Linked DNA regions of Homo sapiens: region 1 is linked to region 2. The links come from fine-mapping of genetic effects on plasma protein levels. Region 2 holds a variant in brackets. A gene starts in the other region. All regions are shown on their forward strands.

Evidence for each region. A credible set is the group of variants that fine-mapping cannot tell apart. PIP is the chance, under the fine-mapping model, that this variant and not a neighbour inherited with it causes the effect. Protein levels are from antibody-based Olink assays in UK Biobank. Linkage for the fine-mapping came from a reference panel and not from the study's own genotypes, which makes the PIPs less certain.
Region 1: it holds the start of SLITRK2, and the variant in region 2 is the best candidate, but not a certain one, in a credible set for the plasma level of the SLITRK2 protein (UK Biobank, PIP 0.62).

What each region holds. Positions count from the first base shown.
Region 1 is chrX:145,812,988-145,818,333 of GRCh38, forward strand. It overlaps SLITRK2 (SLIT and NTRK like family member 2), which reads left to right and starts at 4,842. Exons shown (of 5, transcript NM_032539.5): 1 at 4,842-5,039.
Region 2 is chr11:11,251,657-11,257,037 of GRCh38, forward strand. The region is part of intron 1 of LOC124902631 (a long non-coding RNA gene); the gene reads right to left. Among named protein-coding and RNA genes, the nearest start is that of CSNK2A3, 99 kb to the right of the region's middle. The variant G/T (reference allele first, on the strand shown) is at 2,885.

The DNA.
Region 1 (5,346 bases), not on the chromosome of region 2:
AATGCGGCATCCAGTTATTACTGGAAATGATTTTATTTACATTCTAGATCTTACTTGCCTCATTTCTAAACCTACAATTTTGAAACTCTGCTTCATTTTGTGCAAATCACAACTTCAGGTAGATCTGGGGTATGTCATCCTTGCCATTTTGTTCATATTAATAGACTAGTCCTCTTCACAAATGATGACATTTTTAAAAATCAGAACTACTTAGTGCAAATCCTGAGTAGCTGCTCCTCTGACCGTAACTCTTTAGAACTGGGCATCTTCTATGCAGACATTTTTGAATTTTCCAGCAGAGTCAGCATTAAACTCTCTACCACAGCACATACTTTACCATATATTTATACTAGCCAAACATAAATACATAAATAAAATCAACAGAACTTATTACAGAGGCTCAACTGCATTATACCATTCCAATAAAGTGCAATGTCAAACCTAATAAATTTGGCTTCCTCCTGAACACATTAGGTTGTAACTCCAAACCAAAATATGACTTCCAGCTGCAGCAAAATTCATAAGATAGAATGTGTCAGGATAGATGAAATACCTACTAATGCTGTCCTGAGCCTTATCTGTTAAATTTGTGGCTTTTGCCATGTATATGTGCTCCCAAGTCTAGTAAGCTTAAATGTGGTTCTTACTGATAAATCACTGGACTCAGTCAAAAAAGAGGGAGAGCCAGAGCCCTTAGAGAACAGGTATCATTAATAAGTGGCACTTGGTGTAATTGATGGGGGCACCATAAGTCTTTCTATAACTTTGTAAGACATGCAGTTGTCTTTTCCTTCTATTTCTGTACTTCCCCTCTTGATCTACTGCCTCTTTTCTCCTTTCTATCCCATTTTCCTTCCTTTCCTGCCCATTCCAGCGTGGCAGTGTTATTCAAACTGTAAGAGGCAATCTACAGTCACTCCTGAGTTCAGTTTAGTGGGCCACAGCCAAGCATTTAAAAAATCGACTACAATAGAATAATATTTCATTATATATTGTTATATTACTTATTACATTTATATAATTACACGTATGTATATATAGTATACATATGCACATTACACACACACACAAAAGCCAGTGACGCTGCTAATCCTTCTACATTGCATAGGGCAGCCCCCACAACAAATAATCATTTGACCAAATATATCAACAGTGTTGAGTTTGAGCCCTGATGTATACATATATGTAACTATTTGAAAACATCTGTAAAATGAAAGATGGAATTTTTTTGAAGTTATTTTAAATGTTTGACATTACATGGCTCCAACTAGAATCATAAATATTTTTTCTAATGCTAATTCTGTTATCCAACTTAAATTAAGATGTTGGTTTCTGACTAAAATCAACCATTTCACCAAGAATGGGAGTAAGGGTAAGTTACTTAAATTTTCTGAGTCTCACTTTCCTCTTTTGTAAAGTCTGGCTAATCATACTGGCCTGTTGAGGATTGTCATGAGAAACATAGAAAACAGATATAAAATATTTTGTATAACTTATTTATTTTAAGAAGTGAGTTAAAAATTTTTTTAGTTTAAGATTTATTTGCACATACATGTACCACCGTTCAATTTTCAAGAGTTCTGTATACATCCCATCCTTACTGACTCCACATAGCAGGTGCCAGTTTTACACATGGGGAACTGAAATTGGTGTAATGCTGTTTTTGTCCCATTGTGAGAAAGTAGCACGGGTGGAATTTGAACCCAGGTCATTGGGCTCCAAGGGCTTGGATATGTATTTGATTAAAAGAAAAACTGCCCTGGGTCTTGGCCCAGCACTATTTCAATCAGGCCAAAATGCCTGCCAAATAATCCAAATAATTGAATTGAATTGAAAAATATCCACCTTTTCAATAACATCAGGAACAAAAGTCTACAATATCCTGTAAACTATAATTACTAATATTAAGGGCATGTCCGCTTTGTTGCGTTTCTTTATTTAGGAATTTGTTCTGTGGCACTCTTCTTTGAAACCTTTGGTTGGAAAGAAACTATGTTCACTGAAAATGCAGCACATTTTGTCTTCTTTTATATGTTTTAAAGCTTTCTAGTTCTGGATAGGTGTGAAGAAGTTGAAAAAGCAACATTCTCAGGTAAATTACGTACTACACAGTAATAGGACATCCTTTACATCATCCTGGAAACATATGCGCTTTTTATCTCACTCATCGCAGGTGAAATTTCTGGTTTTCTTCTAACCTTAGAATGAAATTATAAAAACCCAGGCAAGATTTAGTTTTATTTCTCTGTTTTTCCACTAGTTTTCCAATCGGGATCTCTATGTTGTTTAGTAACACGAACTTCACAATAGAAAGTAGCTTACAGTAAACCAAACCCCCACCACATGCAATTTACCTATATAACAAACTTGCACACGTACACCTGAACCTAAAATAAAAGTTTTTCAAAAAGAAAACAGCACATGGATATAAAGATACATTTACAGTGCTAGTATAAAGAAGAATAATGTGATTTTTATTAATGAACAGAAGTACATTAATATGGTGTCTCTAGTATTCAATTCTATTTGGAAATTTTCCTCTAACACAGAAGCTTTTAGAAAATTCAGCATAAAGCAGCTTTCAAATAAATTGGCATATTTAAATTTTTCACAGACTTCAAACTCTCCTCCATTATAACTGTCTATGCAAAACCCTCTCAGAAAGTTTTATATTGCTCATCAATTTTCGTGTCTGTGCATTCAAAGCACAGCTATCCACCTACTTGAAAATTTTATGCTGACAAAAAGAAAAGTCTGCTCTTTTTAATTTTGTCTTACTATCAGTGTGGTCCCATGTGGAAAGGCAGGCTGCTAAATGCTTTTCGAAGGCTGGTGAACAGGTTAGACTTGCTTACAAGGCTAATTAAAATTGATGCATGCCATCTATTACATGTTACTACTGGATCTAAATAAAGTATCACTTTTCATCATTAATGCCATGTTCCTTCTCTACTCTGTATAGAAGTTTTTGCTTATTTTGTATGTTCCCTTTGGCTACAGACACATCACCCTTCTTAGTAAACTGTCTGAGTTTTTCAGCATGACTGTCTCATTATTTCTGTATTGGAATGGCCTCTTAGCTCTGTGTTTTGCAGTTGTTTATAACATCTACTAAAAGCGACATGAAAAGATGACACAGTCAGAAATACGGTAAAGACAGAAGTAACAGTATTAACTGACCTCATTTAGTTAATAATATGATGTGCTCAGTGCACTGCTTTTAGTCTGTAGCAAACAGCACATTGGATGTTTACACTAATACAGATATTGTAAAAAGAAGAGCAATGCTTCTGGATATATAACCGTACATACACTGCCCACGTGCTTATGTGAGAACTATGTTATTCCGAAGTTGCTTATCTGAATGGTAGGAAGATTTCAAAAAGGCTTTCTCAAGAATGAAATAAAAGGAACAGTAATGACCCTTACAACTCCGAAGATACGATTATAATTCTTCCGACTATTATTAAAGCAAACTCTGTACATCTTCATAATATAAGATTGCCAGTAGTTTTCTTTTTAAAAAGCCCAGCATAATCTCCTTAGAAAACCATTATGAAAGAAAGCCAAGAAGAGAGGACAGGAGAAGCACAAAAGATTCCCACGGGAAGGACAAGAAAAAGGTGGTTGTCAGTGCTGTGAGAACGAGTTGAAAGGCATGGGAAATATGGAAACAGACAAATTCCAATGCAGATCCACTAGCTGGAGAGGTAATTTTGCGTCTAATTTTGCACCTCTCTCCTCGCCTCCCCGTCTGCTCTCCACCATCACGCTTTTCGACAGTAAGAAGGATTTGGGGTTTTGCAGACTCTAGCGGGCATGAAAAGGATAGGGGGTGGCAACGACTTGAATTAATGACGTTCTCCTACAGGATGGAGGGGAAAATGACTTAGTGTCATCAAATGAACTCCCTACTCCTGGCATAAATTTATCAAACTGCAACTTTATCTCGAATACTCTGGAAGAGTAGAGGAGAGGCCCTAGAGAAAGCAAGTCTTGAGGGGAAACGCAATGCTCTTGGCAAAAACCGCACCTCCCTCTTGAACTACACTGACTCTTTTCACAGAGCGCCTTCCTTTAATAGAATCACAACCACCTGGACTACTAATAAGAGGAAGAAGAAAGGAGAAAAGGGAAGGGAGGATGGCAAAAATCACGCTCTAGAAGATCCAGGCAACGTCGTCGTGAAGAATAAAGGGAATCAAAATGGGCACTGGAACGCTGCTAAGGGCTTGCTTTGTTAACACACTTGCACAACTCAAGTTCAGCTCTATCTTATGTTGAAAGTCCTTGTTTACGATCCTCGTAGGAGGTTCTTAAATATCTGCCTGCGAACTCCCAAAGACTGGGCGCTTACTAGTTAGGGGAGGCAGCTGTCCCGGAGGGTGTCCAGCTCGGATGGCTGACTGCTCTTTCACTTGTCGTTAACTTCCACCCAGTAGTCTTAGTCTCCCCTTGGACATGGTACCGACCGTGTGCCATTCTTATTTCACTTGACCGAGCCCGAGCTGCAGCCCAGGGTGGAAGCCGCAAGGGCTGGGCAGAGTTCCAGGCAAGAGGGACCGAGAGGCGTGAGCAGTGCTCCGCAGCGCTTGTCAGAGAAATGGAGCAGCGGCTCCTTTGTGGGCTCTTACATCCCCGTCCTGGGTGCACAGCCCGGATATTTGATCTGTGGGGTGATTGATAAGTGAGGGAGAGGGGGGACGCGATCCCTCCCTCCCTCCTCCCTCCCTCCTCCCTCCTCACTCCCTCCTCCCTCCTCCCTCCCTCCTCCCTCCTCCCTCCCTTCTTCCCCTCTCCTCCCTCCCGCTTTACTTCCCTCCTCCCTCTCGCCTCCCTCCCTCCTTCCTGCAAGAAGCGTTGCCCGTTGGCTAGCTGCTCGGTGGGGATCTGCCTGCCCTGGGGGCGCCGCCCGCGCTCCCCGCGGTGCTCTCGCTCCTGGGCTGCGCCAGTCCGAGGCGGTGCCGGCTCCTTTGCCTCCCCGAGTCGCAGATGCTGCGGGCGCCTCCGGGAAAAGATCTGGGCGGCGCGCTCGCTCGGTAAGTTCTGAGCACTCAGGGACGCGGTGGCGACGCGGCCAGTGAGCCGGCTTTCCTCAGTCCGTTGCCTTTCCCGGCCACCTCTCCTTGCGAGGGGCACCAGCGTGGGGAGGCTGGGCGCCATCCGCGGAGGGCAGCTCGCTGGCGGCCGCCCTCTACCCTCAATCCCCACTGGAGATTCCTCACCCCGGGACCGTCCGCGCGGGCGTGGTCGGGCTCCGCGCCTCGCGCAGCGGGGTGGCACAGGCGGCCAGGGAGGGCCCACGCACCCGGCGCGAGCTAGAAGCCTCCGGTCGGCCTGCAGTGC
Region 2 (5,381 bases):
GCCTTTGAGGGCAGAAATTGTCATTTTGTTTACCTTGTAGTATCTCTAGGGCACAGTATGGCTTTAGTAGGTGCTCTAGAAGTACTTCTTGCATAAGTGAGTGAATGCATGAACTAATGAATGAATCCCAGTGTGGCACAATGGTGGGAATCCAGTAGGTGGTGCTCAAAAATCCACATGGCAGTTAGATGGCAGGTTGCAGGGGATAATGTTGCCAGCAAGGTATGCTGAGCCCTCAGCACTCGAAATTATTGGACTGTGAGTTTGCATTAGGGACCAATATAGGCACAGACACTGAGGCTAAAGAGGGTGTCTGGAATAGGGGCTTGCTGGAAGGAGCTGGGGTTCATGGTTCCAAGATATAGCTGCAGTCTGGCTATGGTCGGGAGCAACACATCCTGAGGGTGTCAGAGAAGGCTTCTTTTGGAGCCTTTAGTGGTTTGGGGCTGAGGCAGGGGAATTGATCAGGGACCTGGGGTAGTGCTGGCTTTAGAGTGAGAGATCCACGGGCCCAGCAGCTGGGAACTGCTGCCAACGGAGGCAGGGCAGATGCCGTAATGAAAAAGACATACAGTCCATTTAAGAGACAGCTAGTTAGTGAAGAAATTGCTCTGGAAGTAGAATATTTCTGAGGTGGATGCAGAATTTACAAGCTTTAACTATAGATCACATCATGTTTTCAAACACATTTTCCTGTGTTGACGATTTCACTTATTCTGCAGATTGTGCCTGATTCAAGAGCCATAATTCCTGCCATGGAGACTCAGGTGGTGTCATTTGGGTTCCCAAATTGGGTTTGTGTATTGCAGCTAAACGGCCATCTCTTAGTTTCAGAGAGATACCATTTGAAGATGTGCCATCAGCACTGCCACAGTGACAGATGAGAAGCCTCCCATCTGGTAAGGCCTTCCCCAGGCAGGGCTGGCTGCACACCTGGTAGGCCCCGTCTGCACCTGCTGGTGATGTCATCTTATGTGTGGTCTTCTGCTCTGGGGATGGCAGGCGAGTGCCTGCGGCAGCTGGTGTGCTGAGGACCCAGGCAGAAAGAGTCCAGAACGTGAGGGTCATATCTTATATCTAGGACAGCTGCCTCCAAGGTTCCCCTAACCAGAGCAAAGGGCAGAAGCACTGAGATACCCGCTGACACCCAGGCCGACCTCCCAGGGATCTTGGCTATCAGTGTGGGGCAGGGCACCCACAGGGATGGGGAGCCTGGATGGATCAGGCTTTGTGAGGTCACAAGAGGAGACAGGCACAAACAAGCTGCGGTGCAGGGTTATTATGAGTGTACATGTGAATATGGAGTAGCTTGGGATGTCTCTCCAACTGATACAACTTCCCTCTATCCCAGGGTTTCTGAGACTAGACTGAGCCACCAGATTCCTAGAGAACCCATAACTCAATGTCATTAGGCAGAGGACCTATTTTGGTTTTTTTGGTAATAATTTGTTAAATGGGACTCCACCCATTTTCTTGGAATTGGAAGAACCAAGGCTGAAATCTATAGGTGCTATATATCTGCATATTCCTAAATGGGACCGATGGATCCATTCTTTCAGGACATCACTCCAGCACTACCAGTCTGCAATAGCAGGAGATACAAGTTCTTTGGGGCTGTGAATTGCTAACATAGAGGCAGAGTACTGTGACTTCTCTTCCTTTTGGGAGAGGAGAGGAGGAGTGTTCTATACTCTTCCCCCAGTCAAATGAACGGGTCTCCAAGAAAACAGTGGGGCCCTAGGAAATGGGTGACTGCTGTCTCATGCCCTGAGTGGATTCCTACTAGGACACTGGGGCACCAGAGCCATCTATGTTGACAGGAGAAGGGGGGCGGGGAGTGGAGGGAGATGGTAGGCAGGGAGGAGGTAGAAGAGGTACAGCTCCTACTCCCCTGTTTGGTGTGGGAAAGAAGTGGACGTCCCGTGGGTCAAGAGGATCCTGAAAAGGCAGCTTGGCTGGTGCTACCTTCCCAACACCTCACCCAAGAGATTGTGGGGTGTGTCACTGCAGGCAGGAGAGGAAAGGGAGCAAACTTGGTCACATGCCTGCCTCTCAGAGGGTGCTGACTCCAGGAAGGTGCACAGCAGCACGAGTTGGCAAGAGACACTGGCCCCTTCCCCCAGTGTTTCTCCCAGCCCTGACTCAATGGGAAAGGAGGGTGGGGAGAAGGTGGAGGAGGAGTGGAAGAATGGCCACATACCCTTCTGCCTGCAGGTGTCCTGGGCCGGGGGCAGGTCTGAGCTAGGGAAGGGGAAGGATATGAGATGAATGCTTTAAACTAGACGCCCTAAGACTGGATTAAACAAAAATTATAACCCAAAGTGACCAGATGGCTCTAGTTTCTGCCCAAGATGTTGTTAAGAGATTGGAGAGGTAGATTCAAAAGGTTGAAGGCAGTGGTTGGAGAAAAACGAAACCCTTTCACTAAATTAAGAGCGTTTTCTGTATTGGTCTATGTGGGAGTTTTCCTACCGCGATCAGGAGGAAACTCTGAAACAAGAAAAGGGCCCTGCTTGCCTCTGGCCCAGGGGCCATTGCCCTCTGCTTGTGTACCCGTTGTCCCTTTCAATCCACTGTGGCCAGAGCTACAGGCTGACTTCACTGAAAACAGCCCCAACCCAGGGTCTCTTAGGAAGGAAAGCCCTGGTTCAGGCCCTTTATCTCAGAAGGGACACAGAGGCAGCCACAGGACTCCTCTGGCTGTCCATCCAGCATAGCACTCAGGTGGAGGCAGACAGGCATCTGCATAGATTCTAGTACAGGAAGGAGAGGTCAGTCAGACCCAGGGGAGACTGCGGAGGGAGGCTTGCCTTAGGAGTTCAGAGGGGCTTCCAGGTACCCTCTAGAAAAATGTATCCAGAACTGGAGACTAGGGGGCTGAGAT[G/T]AGGCAAAATTGATGAGATTTTAGAGCCTTGGTCATGGCCCCAGCTTTTTCCCTGCCCCTTACCTCCTGCCAACTTCCTTCTAATCAGGAGCAATAATAGCCTTAAAGGGCAAGGACCTGTGGGCTTGTGTTTGGGGATGTAAGAAAGGAGGAGAGTACATGAACCCCTCTGCAGCTGGGCTTTCCAGGAGGGGCACCCAGCTTAGGGGTGGGTGGAGCCCCTCAGGCCTGAGATTTCTGGCCTGGGACTGGCCACGGATGGGAGTGGCACAGTCAGGTGCCCCTGGACTCTGGAATAACCACCATGACCTGATGATGACGATAACAAGTTTAACTATTGAGTGCCAGGTACGAATCATCACAGCTCTCTGCCGAGACTCCTACTGTTATCTCCATTTCATAGATGAAGAAAAACCTCAGAGAGGCTGCCACACGGTGCAAATCCAGAGTCCATGCTCTCTTCTTTTTCTTTTTGTTTACCTCTTTCTCACTCTCTCCTCCTCCTTACCCATATTACCCCACCCATCTTCCCCACAACCTTGATTAATGACCTGGGATAGATCCTTCTACATTTTTCTCCATACATATAGTCCACTCCATCAGAAATGGGTTGTACAGTATAGACATCTTTTCTTGCTCACAATATCTCACAGAAATTCTCCAACTGACCTCATAAAGTCCCTCCAAATCAATTAGATTGCTATTTTCAGAGGTCATCTGATATTTCACCGTAGGGGTATATCATAAATTCTTCCCCATCCCTCCATGATAGGTGGTCATTTTTTGTTTGTTTTTCTTTTACCACTACCAACAATGCAGCAATAAATATTGTTATATTTGTCTCAGTTGACCAGAATTTTTCTCTCTAGAGGATAGATTTCCAAATTTGAAGTTTTGGGTAGTTTTACTTGAAACAGATATTGCCAAATTGATTTCTAAAAAGGCTATGGCAATTCACACTTCCACCAGCAATGCATGAGTGCACCTCTTTCCCACATCTGCACCAGCCATTACACTTGCTTTCATTTTGTTAGTCTGGTGAGTGTGAAGTGGTATCTAATTGTTTATTTTGGTTTTCAATTTCTTGACCATGAAGGAGTTCTAACATCATTTTATATACTTGCCAGAATTTAGTTCATTTTCTGTTTTTTGCCTATTTATTTGCTTGTCCAGTTAATTTTGGGTTGCCTTTCTTCTTAAGAATATTTCTTTTATAGATGTTAATACTTTATGTGCTATTTGTATCACAAATACTTCCTTCCAAATCTGTTATTTTGTTTATGGGTTTCAATTATAATACTTTTTACCATATAAAAGTTACAAATTTTTGTATTTCAAAAATTTCTTTTTTGTATTAATGTCCTTTTTCTTAAGAAGGTCTACCCAACACCTCGATTCTATATGTAGTCTCTAAGAACTCTCTTCTATGGCTTTTATAATTATTGTTATTTTTTACATAAAAGTTTTCAACCAAGTATGAAATTTATTTTTGTACAGAGCATAAGGGCTCAACTTATTTATTTTCCAAATGGATAGACAGTTGTGCCAGTCTAAGTGCCAGGGAGAGCTGAGAAAGTCAACAAGAGCTGAGACCTGAATTCTCTTGCCGATGGTTCAAGAGAGAACTGGGGAGAACAGGTGAAAGGTGATTGAGACACACGAGAGCCCTTGCCTGTACCCCCACTGCCCTGCAAAGAGATGCTTGGTCCAGGACTCAGAGATGAGCGAGGCAAGGGATGTCTCTATTGGAGGAGAAGGGGACAATAAGTACATCCTACTAAAGTATCATCTTTGTCATATTTTTAAATTCTCATGGTAGGATCTGTTTCTGGATTCCCTATTCCGCTCCATTGGTTTATTAGTCCATTCCTACTCCACTGGCAGTGTGTGTATGTGTGTGTGTGTGTGTCACAAAAATTAGATCACTGTGGCTTTAAAGATTAATTCCAATGTCTTTAGTGTTTCCCAGTTAAGAAAAATGTTTCTCTTCCTCTTTCTCTTTCTTCTTTTTCTTTCTTTATGTCTTTATTGGGAATATCTCAAATTTTATTAAATGAGTTTTCAGCATCTACTTATATAATCCTATGGTTATCTTTTAATATTTTGGCATAGTGGACGACTTTAATAGATTTCCTCATATTGAAACAACTTTCCATTCCTCAAGTAATGCCGCCTTAGTCATTGTAACTTTTTTGGTTACATTGGTTTCTATTCATTAATATTTTATTGATAATTTCTGTATTTATATTCATCTGTAAGACTGGTCTCTAGTCTATCTTTTTGTGCTGTCATTATTAACTTTTAATACTAACCTTATATAAACTTCATGAGATAAATTGATTTTTTTCCCATTTTTAGTGTGGTTTGGAATATTTTTAACATCAGAAATTATCTGTTTTTCAAAGGTTAGATAGAATTCAGGTGTTAAACCACCTGGCCTTAGCTCTTTTTTAATGCAAGTTCTTCAAAGTCTTTCCAATTTTTTCTCATGGTCACC